Linked DNA regions of Homo sapiens. The protein of the gene in region 2 purifies or fractionates together with the protein of the main gene of each other region. This does not show direct contact. Each region holds a gene or a part of one and is shown on either strand. Other genes may lie near its edges.

Region 1 (7,619 bases), on a different chromosome or scaffold from region 2:
CTGGGGACAAAAAAGCCACTCAATACATGAGGCAACAAGAGTGTCCAGGATTTACCTTTAACTGTTGGAATTCCGAGTCTTGCTATACCTTTCTCTCGTGCCCCACCTTTGGAACGCTGGCTACTCATTATGGGATGCCACCCATCCTAGCCGTCGCCTGCATATATTGGGTGCTCATTATGACGTGGTCGTAAGTGCTGTCCATCCGCCATCATTCATCTTCATCCAGTGAGATGAACACGAACCCCATTTCATGGATAAAGAAACTGAGGCAGCCAGGCGCAGTGGCTCACGCCTGTAATCCCAACACTTTGGGAGGCTGAGGTGGACGGATCACCTGAGATTGGGATTTCAAGACCAGCCTGACCAACATGGAAAAACCCCATCTCTACTAAAAATACAAAATTAGCTGGGTGTGATGGCGCATGCCTGTAATCCCAGCTACTCAGGAGGCTGAGATAGGAGAATCACTTGAACCTGGAAGGTGGAGGTTGTGGTGAGCCAAGATTGCACCATTGCACCCCAGCCTGGGCGATAAGAGTGAAACTCCGTCTCAAAAGAAAAGAAACAGGCTTAGGAAAAGCGATCTGCCCAAGGTTGGGATGAATCCTCAACTGGGCCCATCTCTAATCTGGCTTCTCTCTGCTACGATGCTGCAAGAATTTTCAGGCCAAATTTCAGTCCCTGGGTAAAGGGAGGGTACAACTTTTCCATTTTTTAAGCTGTGAGAGGGTAGAGTACAAAAGGGATATTTGAAATTGTGCTCCCTGAGTATCAGACTTGTAGAAGCAGAGACCTGGCTGTTCTCATTGTATTAGAAGAAGCAGGATGAACAAAAGGTTTTGGAGAATGCTGGGAAACACGGCTGGGGTTTGAGAGACTTAGGCAGCATGACATTCAGGCCCTTTTAGGTTATTAGGACAATGAGAGTTCCGGGCTCTGTCCCTAACCCCCAGCTAGGTAAGTGGCAAAGCACTTCTGGCTGTTTTGGAGATGCTGTCAGCTGTGGGAAACTGAGGCAGAGGCCTGGAAGGGCTTTTATTTTCATTCTACCTCCCTCATTTTCCTTTCATGACCCTATGGGTGAGACCATAGGTAGTCTCCAGGTGGGTAGACAGAAAATGCCCTTTGCCGCAGGCATGACCTCAAGAGTGCCTACTTCCTCTTCCAACTTGGTATTAGCCCAACCTCTGTCAGAAGGGCAACAGAATGAAATAAGGATGATGAAATGCTTGCAAAGAGAAAGTGAAATGGAGAATATGCAGTTTTTAAGTCCCTTTGCCATTTTTAAGATGCTTTTGAATCCAGGATTCTTTTGAATTAAAGGTACAGCGATCACAGGAGTATAAGCATTGATTAAATACCTATGATGAAATAGCACAGCAAAATGGGTAGACATGGGCCTTGAAGTCAGATGGGGTTTGAGTCTCTGCCCTGGCTGTATAACTCTCGTGAGTTATGTAACTTCTCTGAGCCTCAGTTTTCTCATCTGTAAAATGGGGATAATAGCACCTCCTATGGAGGGCACAAAGCAGATGGGACCACTGTAATTATAAGCAGTACCTGATGCAGATGAAATACTACTGGCCTTTTGGGAAATGGGAGTGGCAGTAGAATGGGGAGGGAATACACAAGATTGCAAAGTGTGACCCCCACCAACTAGGATCCTACAGAACGATCTAACACTTTACATTTCAGTTGAGGACTTTTCCAGGTGTAAAATTTATGCTGATTTTTTTTTTCCATCCCAGGTTTGGTTTTCCTAAACAAATCCTTTCACAGGGACCGACGGCACTTGATAATGTGACAAAAACCAGCCTCTTCCACCCCACTGCAGTGACTTTTGCCGGAAAGTGGAGCAGTGGGCACGGCCAACCTTGTCGTTCATCAATGCCGCCCCTGGCAGTATCTGAGGATCGGTGGCAGCCATGCCTCCCCCTGCCCCAGCCGCTCCTTCCCCCCCACGCTAATCTGCATGGTGTGGGCGCCCTTGGGACCCCCGAGGACTGATTGTCTGACCTTGCTTCACACGCCCAGTAAGGACTCCCCCAAGATGTCGCTCGAGTGGCTGGTGGCCTGGAGCTGGTCGCTGGATGGCCTGAGGGACTGCATCGCCACCGGCATCCAGTCCGTGCGGGACTGCGACACCACCGCTGTCATCACTGTGGCCTGCCTCCTGGTCCTCTTCGTGTGGTACTGTTATCACGTGGGCAGGGAGCAGCCCCGGCCCTACGTCTCCGTCAACTCCCTCATGCAGGCTGCCGATGCCAACGGGCTGCAGAATGGCTACGTGTACTGCCAGTCCCCTGAGTGCGTGCGCTGCACCCACAACGAGGGCCTCAACCAGAAGCTGTACCACAACCTGCAGGAGTACGCCAAGCGCTACTCCTGGTCCGGCATGGGCCGCATCCACAAGGGCATCCGCGAGCAGGGCCGGTACCTCAACAGCCGGCCCTCCATCCAGAAGCCCGAGGTCTTCTTCCTGCCCGACCTGCCCACCACGCCCTATTTCTCCCGGGACGCACAGAAACATGATGTGGAAGTGCTGGAACGGAACTTCCAGACCATCCTGTGTGAGTTTGAGACCCTCTACAAAGCTTTCTCAAACTGCAGCCTCCCGCAAGGATGGAAAATGAACAGCACCCCCAGCGGGGAGTGGTTCACCTTTTACTTGGTCAATCAGGGGGTTTGTGTTCCCAGGAACTGTAGGAAGTGCCCACGGACGTACCGCTTGCTCGGAAGCCTTCGGACCTGTATTGGGAACAATGTTTTTGGGAACGCGTGCATCTCTGTGCTGAGCCCTGGGACTGTGATAACGGAGCACTATGGACCCACCAACATCCGCATCCGATGCCATTTAGGTATGTTGCAAGGACAGGGGTCTCCCGGCATGCACATTTGCAAGCTCAGCCCCTCTCCATCAAAACATCGCGAAAGCTCAAATGGTCAGAATTGCGCCTTTTCGCATTGTTCACTTTTAGCAAAAACTGATGAATTGCATGTAAACAATTTGACAGCAGAGATTGAGTCAAAAAGAAATCTTGTGATCAGTGCAAACCTAATTTCTGACAGCAGCTCTGTGCAAAGAACTTTCTGCAGTGACAGAAATGTTCTCCATCTTCATTGTCCAAAATGGTAGCCACTAGACACATGTGACTAATTGAGTGCTTGAAACTTGTCTCCTGTAACTGAGGAACTAAATTTTAATTTAATTTAAATAGCAGTGACACATACGGCTAGTGGCTACCGTATGGGGACAGTGTCGTTCTAGAGCCAAAGACTTGTTAAAATGATTACCGAGCTTCATAATGATGTCCAGGAGGCTGTGAAAGATACTTAAGCATCTTTGCAGTCATCAAGGATGAAATGATCCTTGGTGATAAGCTTGTTTTACTCCGATTCTGAGAAAATTGGTCGTATGCGTACTGTGTGTGCGGCTGTGGTTTTGCAAACAAAGACTGGAGTTAGACAGCCTTTGTTTGCATCTTGGCCCCACCACGAGCTGTGCTACTGTAGGCAAGTCATTTCACCTCTCTGAGCCTCAATTTCACTATTTGGGAAGTGGAGGTAAAAAGATCTTCTCCTAAAGAGTTATTCTGAGGATCCAATCAGATAATGTGTATTGTATGTATGCACACAGAGCCTAAAATAGAGCAAGTATTCAATAAAAGTAGGCTTAAAACAACTTAATCATGGAGGTATTAGTTCCCCAGAATGCCTTATTCCTGGTGAGTGGCGATAAAAAGCTCGTCTCTGGGATGGTGGCATCACCGGTTAGTATCTCAGATTAGAGTGTGCAGAGACAGCCTTGGCAGCGTCCAGCTTTACAAAGTTCACAACGCTGCTTCAGCTTCAGTAGGGAGGAAGGAAGAGCAGCAGGAGGAACCTGGTGCATGGGTTGGAGTGGGAGTTTCATAACCACGTTCTGCAGAGGAGCCTCAGGGCTGCCTGGGAAGGAGCCGGAGCTGGGGGCCCCCGAGCCCTCTTCACCCTCAGCAGCTCTGCTTCTCCTGCTGTCTGTGTGGGGGTTCTGAGTAAGATGTGGTTTGGATGGAGGATATCACTGCACTAAAAGAAAAGAAAAGAAAAGAAAAGAAAAGAAAAGAAAAGAAAAGAAAAGAAAAATATAATGAGATTTGAGCAATTGACATGGTAGGAATTTCAAGAGTAAAGGGCGGACTGGGTGGAGGCTTTGGGGGAGGTGGCCTGAATTCCTGGTCAGCAGTCAGCCGTGAGACTTTGAGCAGGTCACTGAGTCTCTCTCTGCCTCAGTTCTTCATCTGTAAAATGGGGAGATGGTACTTACTTCACAGGATTGTTGAGAGGATTCAATGAGTGGCATCTTACATGGCCCCTTGGCAGGATTCCTGGCACGTGACAGCATTTGATGAATGGGAGCTAGTAGCTATTATCAAGGACTGTGTTGGACCATGTGAAAAATGATCCATAAGACATAGACCCTGCCCCCAGGAAACAGTGGGAAAGGAACAGGCTTCGGAAGCAAACAGATCTGGACTCAGGTCCTGGCCTCGCCCCATTTGCTGAGTGACCTTGGGCAGGGCTCTGAACCTCCTTAAGCCTCCGTTTTATCTTCTCTAAAACAGAGATGACGATTCCCACTTGCTGGCTGTTTTGAGGAGTGGGAAGTAATATGTGTAAAATGCTTGGCAGGTAGAGGGCAGTGGACAGTAAGCTAATCTAAGTGATGGGATGATAATCCAGGTGATGGTCATTAGCAAAACTGCTGTGCGAGGCCCCAAGCCTCACTTGGCTGCAGACGGGGTGCCCTGGGGAGGTGGGTCTGACACTGGAGGATCCCCACACAGAAATCAGGTGCCGCCAGGGTGGAGCGAGGGAGCGGAATCATCCCCTGGGGCTTGGGGAAGCCGGGTCTAGGCTTGCTGGGGAGGCCAGTAGTGTGGGCTGAGGTTGGACAGGTCAGGTGGGAGCAAACCTCAGAGGCCCTTGATGCCAGGCTTGAGAATGGAGGCCGTGGGCAATGGGGAGTGATGCTCTTCTTTTGAAAGGTTTGCCTTTATGTATTGTTTTAAAACTTCAGAATGACATCTGGGGAAGGGCATTTGAGGACTGATGTGGTAGAATTTCAAAGAGGTGTGAGTAGGAAGTGATGGTAGCAAGGAAAATCTGGGGTTTGCTTTCTGTAGATTAACACTTGTTGTTCATCTGTATGATATGCATGCATGTGTGTGTGTGTGTGTGTGTGTGTAAAACATGCCCACGCTGGCTCACACTGTGGCCTGTGGCCTGTCATTCCTTTCTCAGCCCAGCTAGGTACTTGCCAGAAAAAGTAGGCCCTCCATGTTCCTGTAGATAGCAGGAAACCTTCTTGGAAGACGTCCCACTGTGGCGTGGCTTGTTCTCCACGGCCAAGGCGAGCTCCCTGGTTGGGTTTTCTCAGCGTTTCCTTCTTTACACTATCATGCCCACATTAATATCCACCCAGGAAGGAAACAAAGGTGTGTCGGATTTATGTGACCTTGTGTGTTGACAGAGAGGGAGTCCAGAGAATGAGGTCAGAAGCAGGATAAGCCTGGTGCGTACCTGGTGGCCACACCTCTGCTGGTTACCTGGCTGAAGGTAGAGGCACCTGCAGTTCCAGAACCGTGCTCTTGAAATGCCAATGCTTGCTTTTCTTCTGCCTTCTGCCTGAGCTGTGACTGATGGAATTGTCCCTGTGGACCACTGAAGACCCAGCCACTGCTCCTCACTAACACAGCCCATTTGTTCGAGACATATTTGCTGAGCCCTGCTGTGAGCTACTTCTAGAGGTGGCATCACCTAGTCCCGACTTCATATGGGACCACAGGACAGCTTCAGGCCCACCCCCCACTCAGCATCGTACACAATGCTGGGATATTCCAGATGCACTGCCACAAACTTCCAGAAAACCACCTCTGAAACTCACCAGGCAGATGTTACCAGGGAGGCAGATACTTCATGAAAATGCATGAATATGTTCAGCAAATTCTAGCTAAAGAAGCACAGTTAGACTCTTGTTTTTCTTTTCTGCATGTCATCAGATTTCTAGGTGGTCTAGCCGGGTGGTAACAGTAGATCAGCTCATGTTCCCCTTGCCCACCCTGAGTGCCCGGTTGCCAGCCGCCTGAAGTGGGGGCCACTGGTGGACACAGCCCTTTCTCTACCCTCCTTCCTGCCTCTTTCAGGGCTCGGTAGGGACAGAGCAGCAAAGCTTGAGCCATAGAGGAGCATATGGGACTATCTGAGGCCATGTGTGGGACCTGTCACTGTCCTCAAGAGCCACTGGAATGATCTGTTTAGGGAAGAATTGAGCTCTTCTGCCAACTAAGCTGGTTTGTGGGCAACAGGCAGGAATGGGGGCAGGAGCAGAATGAAGGGGAGGCGGAGAACAAGAAGCAGGGGGGTGTCAAGCCAGCAGGCCAGGCCATTTTTCTATCGCACCGTGGCACGTGGCGATGAATCATTTAGTGGCCCAGAGAAAGGGGAGCTTCTTTCTGAAACCCCGGGGTGGCTGTCCCTGCAGAGAACTGCCCATTCCTAAAGGCCTTCGCCACCTGAACCAGCCAGTAGGGGCACACGCCAAAGGAAAACGTAGCCTCTGAGTCCCTCCATCTGGGCGTCTTTACAGCCCTGACTCCCCCAGCTGCTGTTAACCATAGTGGGAAATCATGGCTTCTGTCAGGATGAGCAGTCTCAGCTGATTTAATGAAATGTACTATTGAGAGTTGAAACATATTAGGGTCCTCTTAGAGGGACAGAACTAATAGGATATATATATACACACAGATATATACACACATACATATATATACATATATATACACACACACATATATATACATATATATAGATACACACATACATATATATACATACATATATATACATACATATATACACATACATATATACACATACATATATACACATACATATATATACATACATATATATACACACATATATACATATATATATACACACATATATATACATATATATATACACATACATATATATATATACACATACATACATACACACACACACACACATATATATATAAAGGGGAGTTTATTAAGTATTAACCCACATGATCACAAGGTCCCACAATAGGCTGTCTGCAAACTGAGGAGCAAGGAAAGCCAGTCAGTTTCCAAAGCTGAAGAACCTGGAGTCCGATGTTTGAGGGCAGGAAGCTTCGAGCACTGGAGAAAGATACAGGCTGGGAGGCTAGGCCAGTCTCACTTTTTTATGTTTTTCTGCCTGCTTTATATTTGCTGGAAGCTGATTAGATTGTGCCTGCCAGATTAAGGGTGGATCTGCCTTCCCCAGCCCACTGACTCAGATGTTAATCTCTTTTGGCAACACCCACATAGACACACCCAGGATTAATACTTTGTATCCCTCAATCTAATCAAGTTGAAACTCAGTATTAACTATCAGACATGTTAACTACAAGAAAATCAGCAATCAGGCCAGGCACAGTGGCTCAAGCCTGTAATCCCAGCACTTTGGGAGGCCGAGTCAGGTGGATCTCTTGAGGCTAGAAGTTCGAGACCAGCCTGGCCAACATGGTGAAGCCCCATCTCTACTAAAAATACAAAAATTAGCTGGGC
Region 2 (8,119 bases):
GTGACTGCAATTACTTCATGCATTGAATTGAGTCAATAAAAAACAGCTTCCATCACAACAAAAAAAAAATGTGTGTTAAATACCAATATGCCTGTGGTACCATCCTAGGCATATTACAAAAGTATTACCTTGTGGGAATTAGCAATCTGGAATTTGCAATTCTCTCTCCACCCAATCCCTTGAAAAGCCATATGTGGCATTAGAGAAATTCATAACAAACTGGAAAATGTCAAAGATGTGGCCCTGGACATTTACTGAAGCGTATATGCCACAACAAAGTGTACACTTTGGGGTAGTTAAACAAATTTCTATAGCCATACATGACAGTTAAGTGATACACAGCTTTGAGAGCCATAACTCCTCTGCATTTCTTACTAACTCTAGAAATCTAACATATCCATTAATGTATTTTTCTTTTTGCTTTTACTGTGCAGATTTAAAGAACAAAATAAATAGGTAAATATATTTTCAGAATAAAAAAGAAAACATCCCGTATTACTTTTGGGGGTGATGAAAATGTTCTAAAATTAGATTATGTTAGTGGTTGCTCAACTCTGTAAATATACTAAAAGGCACTGAGTATATTTTAAGCAAGTGAGTTTTGTGGTATGTATATCTCAATAAAGCTTTTCTTAAAAATAATATTGCTAGAGTGAAAAAATAACCGAAATATTCCCACCACTTTCAGAATCCACAGCCCGAATGTCTCAGCAGAGAAGCTGGGTGTGCTGTGTATGTATGTAGCTTATGATGCTGTCCCTGGGACGTGAGTTGTTTGCTCAGATGGCATTGACAGGGGTGCCACGTGATGGGGTAAGTGGGCAGTCCGTTGCTATAAGCAAGAGGCGGGCTGGGAGTAGCTCTGCAGATCTGGTGGCAAAATGAAAGAAAGGAGTTTTCCCTGTTAGGAAAGAAATGCAGAAGCAGCTGTCCACAGACAGCCCAATGCAGAGAACAAACCTGCCTGGGAAGCAGCTGAGGCAGGGCACATGCTCCTGGAAGGAAACAGAGAGATATGTGTGCTCCTTTACTCGCTAGCCTTTCCCGTCACCCTCTCCCCAGGCTCCTGGCACCTTGGAACAGCGTGAGCTTTCCTAGGGCTCCTCTCGACTTGCTTGATGTAGAATTAATTTAATTAGTTTCAGAGGGATCCATCATGGTGGCTGTGTTGCCTAGGTTAAAAGAAACTCTGTGTGTGTGTGTGCGCGCGCGCGTGTATGCATATATATTTTGCCTTCGTGTATGCAAAAGCACCTTGAGACAATATCCTCCTTCTAACTTGGGATTGCTGGACTGTTATTGGAGTCCTAGGGCTTGACAAATTGGCAGAGACTTGGAAATTCTGAAACAGTTTAAGGAAAATGCTTACAATGATGAAGGAACCAAGAAATAAGTCTCTGGGGCTCAATTCCCTGCTCTGTAGTACATGTTCTCAAACCTTCCTTTCAAGCATTGCATGGCTACCATGGGCCATGTGCAGTGTTAGTGCTACAGAAGACGCAGATGTCAATACAACCCGGGGAACGGGGTCAGACAGATCCCCAAAGACTTCAATACACCCCACCGCAAGACAGTTACAAATAAAGTGCTGGGTCTCAGAAGCCAAGGAAAGCATGTGCAGTTGTTGGGAAGGCTATGAAAGGCTTCATGAACAAGCAGCACTGAGAGCTGTATAACATTTTTACAGGTGGGAGTGAGGTGGATTTCCTGGAGGAAGAATCAATGTGATCACAACCATGAGGGCAGGGAAAGGACAGCAAGTGAGCCCCTTAGGTTGGAGGATAAGGAATTAGCAGAAAATGGTCCTGAAAAGGTGACTATGGCAGTAAATGCCAAGCACAGGTGTCCCTATTGAATTCCGCAGGCCACGGACAAGCCTCTGGTGGGTTCCACACTGGGGCTAATTCCAAGATTGGGGTTCCACATTGGGGCTAATATCCATCCTTCTGCTAAGGATGCCTACCACCCTTGGCTGGAGGGGGACAGCCAAATTCCTGCTCTGGTTTTAACTCAGTGAGCTTCAACACATCAATGTGGAGAAGGTACTTCGTATGAGGCACTCTACAAGTGGGAATAAAGATGAAATAGTGTATGTCTTTAAAAATCCTTGCAGTTTGGGAACAAGGAAGAAGGGCAAAGAGGAGATTAGACAACGACATGTAGAACCATACATCGTATGAGTGGTAAAAGGAGCATCACAAGAGTCTTGACAAAGTGCTCAGACCTCCTTAATTGGGGTTCCTGCCAGCTTCTCAAGAATGGGAACCAGGCTTTCTTCATCTCTGCATGGTCTGGTAGCTCAGTGCCTGGCACTTGGTAGACATTCATTAAATGAATGAATGTATGCATCAGTGAATGAATGAATAAACAAACAAATGAACAATTCTCCTGTCACGCAGGATCTGCTGAAGATGGCGGCTGTAAGTTCACAGAGCACTGCCTAACTTTGGTTCATATTGTTCCTCTCTTCTCCTACCTGTATTTTGCTCACCTCAATACCAGCCCACACTGTTTTCCTGGACTGTGATTCTTTCAGTGATCACAGAGTCTGTGCTGCATAATTTAAGTGTCCCTATTCCTTGCAGCTGCTTCCTGTGTGCTAGTCATGTAAACGCCCTTCTTAAATGATTGCATCCCTCACAATACTTAGAATATATTGACTGTTGATTGGTTGGAAAATAATCCCGTACAGGCGGAGGGGGCAGAAACTGACATCATGGAGTGTCAGGCACGGTGCTGGTGCTATGCATACACTCAACAAGGGCCTGGGTAATGCAACATGGAGAAGGGAAAACTGGGGGGCAGAACAATTTTGTCGTCTGAAAGCCTTTCACAGAGAGGCCCTGAACCCATAGCTCTCCTTCTCTGAGGACAGAAAAGGAGGAAGTGTGTCTGTCCTGCAGTATGTGGGATGGATAGATGGATGCGAAATTAAGCACTGAAGTGGGTTGCTTGGAGAGGCAATGACTGCCCCCTGCCCTCACCTGAAAATCCTTAAAGACAGAAGGGATCATCCGCCCAGGAAGCTGAGGCTGCAGGATAAGCTGGCCTTTTCCTGAACAGTGACAGTTGGAGCGTTCACCCTCACTGTCCTTGTCAGAGTTACAGGCAAGAAAGGAGAATCCTTTTGGATAAAGTGTCTTAAAGGAACTGTTGATTTACCCTTTTGCTTTATGGTCTCCTGATGTAGTGAGCAAGGTTCAGGGAGATTAGCTAACTGCAGGCAGACTGATCTTCCTGTGCAGAGAAATAAGGTAGATTCTCATTATCTTCCAGCTCATTTTCCCAAGAATTATGTATTCTCCGGCCAGAAAACGACCTCCAAACCTCCAAACCTTTTCAACTACACGCAGCAAAAAGCTAATACAATGCCTTCTGCATTTGACTGTACGTCTCCTGCAGTGATTAATGCTGCCTCCCTAACTACATTGTCCGGAGCAAGTGTCAAGCCCAATTATTTCTCTAGGATCTCCTGATAGTAAATGCTCAGCAAATATACAGACGAATAACACCTAATCATACACAATAATCTTAGAGTACTTTCCCCATACATTTCCTAACTTAATCCTTACAACAACCCTGTGAAGTTATTAACTCCCATTTTCCAGTTAAGGAAACTGATGCTCAGCAAAGTTAACTGGCACATCCAGTATCATACAGCCAGTAAGAAAGAATTCTGTTCAGTACGCCTTACTGATTAAATGAACTATGTGGCCTGAAGAAAAAGTGTCAGCTCAGTCTTTCCCCATCACGCATCTTATTCCATGGAGTAACCTGCATTATATTTCAGGGTCAGGCACACTAAGTTTGCGCTTTAGTATATGGTGAATAAATGGATGGACACAGTGGCGGCTCTGTATAAGTCAGCTGAAAGCAAACAAAGGGAAGGCAGAATCTTTCATTCACACGATTTATCCGCGCCCACTGGGTGCACTACGGTCGGGCATTGGCGACCCAGGAGCGACTGACCTGCCCTCATGGGGCTTACGGTCCTTAGCAAAAAACAGATGTAAAACAACTAATATTACAGTAAATGAATCATAATTTTGTGAGATGCTCCTGAAAGTATGTAGCAGGACGCTCCGCTCTGGTCCGAATGAAGAGCCATTTGCACTCAGTGTGGAAAGGCTAGCCTTTTTCTGGGCAAAAGAAGCGGGGGATACATTTAGATAGGCAGAAGTTCCGAGCAGAAGTCAAGGCAAATTAAAAAGGCAACAGGAGGAGGGAAAATGCTTCTCACAAACAGAACTCGACCTAGGGGACCGCAACTCTCCAGTCCTGCTGCTTGGCTGCCTACCTACCTAAGAAAAGCAGGAAAGAAAAAGAGAAGACGGGGTGGGGGATGGAGGACAAATACAGAAAAAGAAAAAAGAGCGAAGGAAGTGAGAAGTGAGAGGCCAGTTTATGTAAGCGGGCAGGGCGGCGCGGCCGGCAGGAGACCGGCGCCGGCGCCGAGGGAGTTAAGCGGACGGGCCCGGTATGGAAGAGGTTAAGGGGGGCAGTCCGGAGCGGGTCCGGTAGGGGCCGCCTACTGGGCGGGGGCGGGGCCGCGCCGAGCGAGCGCTGGGATTGGCCGTCGGGCAGGCGCTACGCTAGGACGGTACCAACAGCCGGGGGCCTCGGAGGCGGGGGGGTGGGTGTGGGACTGCCGCTCTGCGCGGCGAGAGGTGGCCTGGGAATGGCCGGGCCGGGGGTGGGCCGGAGCCGCTGTGGCGGCGGCGGCGGCTGGGGGCGGTGAGCGCGGCGTGGGGCTGCCCCTCCCCGGAGGCGGCGGGGGCGGCCGGGGCCGCGCCGCACCGCACCGCGCGGGCGGCCATGGAGCGAGCCTAGGGCCCGACAGGTGAGTGGCGCGGGGGCGGGGGAGGGCGCGCGACCCCCGCCCCCGGCGCGGCGGGCGGGAAAATGCGGACCGGCACGCGGGCGGGGCACGGTACGTAGCGCGCGCCGGGCTGGGGCCGCCTGGGGGCGGGGCGCCTCCCTGAGGGGCCGGGCACCGGGTGCCCTGAGCCGTCCCCGAGTGGCTGCGGGCGGGTCCCGGGCGAGGGCCCGAGGCTTCCTGGGAGACCCGCTCGGGCCGCGTGTCCCTGTGTGCGGTCGCGGCTGAAGGGACGCGGCCTCGGCCGCCACGTCCCTGGCCCACCTGAGGCGCGGGCCCACCTGGGGCCGCCTCAGGCTGCCAGAGGTCCTTCTAGTGACCGTCTCTCGTCCCCTTGCGCGGTCCCCAGAGGCGATTGGCCCCGGTGCCTCTCTTGTGTTCCCCGGAGCGCCCGTTGAGGCAGCCCAGGGAGCGCGCCCTCGCGGGGTCTTTGCTGGGCCCGCCTCGTGGCCGGGAAGCGCGAGTGACCTGCAGGCCGGAGGCGGAAGGCGGGGCAACCGTGCCCGGGGCCCGCGGTCTCCTGGGGTCCTGCGCCGGGCGCTCGCAGAAGGGCACAACTTAACGAATGCTGTGTTAGCCCTCAGTGGGCTGCGCTTGAGATTTCATTTCCGGGTGTGACGGCCCCGCGATTAAGAGCGGACCGATACGTTTCCCTTAATGATGAATGTGAATAGTTGTCGAGCTGCGTCCTTGATTGTGGGTTCTGATAAGAGATTCATTCTAATCTGACTTCTGTTAACCTGCCAGTCTCCGGATAAGAAGAGAAGGGGTAGAAGGATGGATTGGAGGGAAAGTAGGGGTAACAGGGCTTGGTTAGTCTTAATGGAATTATTAGTCCTTTTAAAGACCATACCATCATTGGGATGGATAAGGAGTTTCTAATTTGGGAAAATGAGAGTTGCTTGCTATTGCGACTTGGGTCTAGTGCCAGATATCAGCATCTTCCCCACCCAGCCAGCTTCCCTCTGGAGGTTTGATTTCTCACTTGGAAGGGAAGTAGGAATGTGGGGTTTTTTTTAGCCTTTAGCCTTTAAACTGTAGGACTTTATAAATCTATAATCTGGTACAAATTACTATTGCCATTTATTAGCCACGCCTATGTTTTTTGCGTTGTAAATTCTTGCAAAAATTTCACTGGCGTTGATTTCTAAAAATCTGGTTAGAGATCTCAGTGTTCTTATGTATTACAAACATTCCTTGAGTTTATGCAGGATCTTTGAGCTAAGCTTAGAGCACTTCCTCAAATATGATTCGTTATCACGACTGTCTGAGAAACTGAGGTACAAATGGTAAAGATGCTAAATTATTTGCCCAGACTCATAGCCAATCTCAGGGAGATTTAAAATCAATGTATTCTATTAATAACTTTTCTAAAGTTTGCAAAGATGTTGGACTTTGGCCTCTCGAACCGTACAATGGAATCAGTCAGCAGGAGTCCCTTTCCCATTTGAAATTACTTATCAAAGGAGAATACAAAGGCACACACAAGTATAATTCAGACTCTCAGCCTCACTCATGATAAAGTGCAGTGATAAATATGGATACAGGTAAAAGATGATCAAGACATCTTGGAGTTCACAGCGTTTCTTTTCTGTGTGGTGAAAATGTGACATTGGTATGCTCTATTCGTTTCTCTAGAACTGGTAGGACAGTAGCTATGTTTTGGTGAATGAATGGAAACTAGAAAACACATACACTGCTTTTCTTTTTGGTTCTTAAGATTAGAGAAAAAACACATCACTGCTTCTATCATCTTTATTTTTATAATCTTTTATATCATGGAAGTATTTTATGTTAAATTGATAATTCCTTGACTTTTAGTTCATTCCCTTGATTTCCATTTGTAGATTCCAGCCCTTTCACACAGCCTTAAAGTTTCTGCTTCTTATCTCTTCTGAATTTTAAATTCCTAAATGAAACTTTCTGTTCCTTCAGTTTTAGGGCAGACTTCAGCTTCCCACACTTTGTGTGTCTATCATTTCATTGGTGTAAAACCCTAAAATCATTTCATTAGTGTAAAACCCTAAAGCCAGATACTTCAGCTGTTGAATTGATAACTTTTTAAAATAGCTAACCACAGAGGTTGTCTTTTGGTGATTGCCACAATCTCATAACAGAAGCAGGAGGGCGTTCTTTGTATTCTGTAAGAATACATAAAAAGACAGTTGGTCGGGCGCGGTGGCTTATGCCTGTAATCCCAGCACTTTGGGAGGCCGAGGCAGGCGGATCACGAGGTCAAGAGATTGAGACCATCCTGGCCAACATGGTGAAACCCCGTCTCTACTAAAAATACAAAAATTAGCTGTGCATGGTGGTGCACGCCTGTAGTCCCAGCTACTCAGGAGGCTGAGGCAGGAGAATCGCTTGAACCCAGGAGGCAGAGGTTGCAGTGAGCTGAGATTGCACCACTGCACTCCAGACTGCTGACAGTGAGACTCCGTCTCAAAAAACAAACAAACAAACAACAACAACAACAGAAGGAGACTGTCTTCTGAATCTGACTCTTAGTCCTTCTGGGACTAAGTGCCAGGTGGTTTTGTGGATTGGGATGGGGAACACAGTTACAATGAGGCCCTACAGTTTGTTGTAATTGTTACAGTAATCTGTGTATCTGTGTATTTTTCTCTCTGCACCTGACAGTGCCTGTATGTAGAAGGTGCACAATAAATATTCGTCAGTTGAATGAATAAATGGAAAACAGTATGAGGGAAGGGGAAATATTCTAATGTATATACTAAATTATTTAGTTCCTCTTTTTGTCAAAAGAAAAAAAAAGCGTAGAAAATGTGTTTCGGATTACTGTTCAAAATATTCTGTAGAGGTGTGTTATTTGCTTCTGTGATTATATGGTGTTCTAAACCACCTGGAGCCTGGCAGTAGCCTGTGCAGGTTCCAGTCAAGTGCAGCTTCACAACCTTGCTCCTACAGTCTGTTCTGGCTAGGCTAATTGGGCAGTTGGATTGATAGCCAGTGTTTTTGCATTAATAGAAGAACTTAGAGCTCTTGGCAATGGCCATGTCAATAGCATTGACCTGACTGCCCTTGTCCCTTATTTTGACGGTGGAAGAGGGGAGTTATCCCTTTTTAAGAGTACTTCTCCAGCAGTTCCTTCTTCTACACCTACATATATCTTCCTGTTTTCCTTCAGCTGTCTCTGTAACCCCAAGTACTAATGAATTCTTTAACATAGGCCTGGGCTGCAGAACAGAAGCTTACTTTGCTATTGAAACCAGCTTCTGACTA

The links.
Region 1: the proteins of FAM20B (region 2) and ASPHD2 purify together in Homo sapiens (co-immunoprecipitation; 3 studies listed by BioGRID and IntAct, with this or other methods). This does not show direct contact.

What each region holds. Positions count from the first base shown.
Region 1 is NC_000022.11:26,431,641-26,439,259, forward strand, and holds part of ASPHD2 (aspartate beta-hydroxylase domain-containing protein 2), read left to right. Parts: intron 1-1,751; 5' UTR 1,752-1,975; coding exon 1,976-2,861; intron 2,862-7,619. UniProt on the Homo sapiens protein: May function as 2-oxoglutarate-dependent dioxygenase.
Region 2 is NC_000001.11:179,021,259-179,029,377, forward strand, and holds the start of FAM20B (glycosaminoglycan xylosylkinase), read left to right. Parts: upstream 1-4,635; 5' UTR 4,636-4,840; intron 4,841-4,865; exon of another isoform or gene 4,866-4,930; intron 4,931-8,119. UniProt on the Homo sapiens protein: Responsible for the 2-O-phosphorylation of xylose in the glycosaminoglycan-protein linkage region of proteoglycans thereby regulating the amount of mature GAG chains.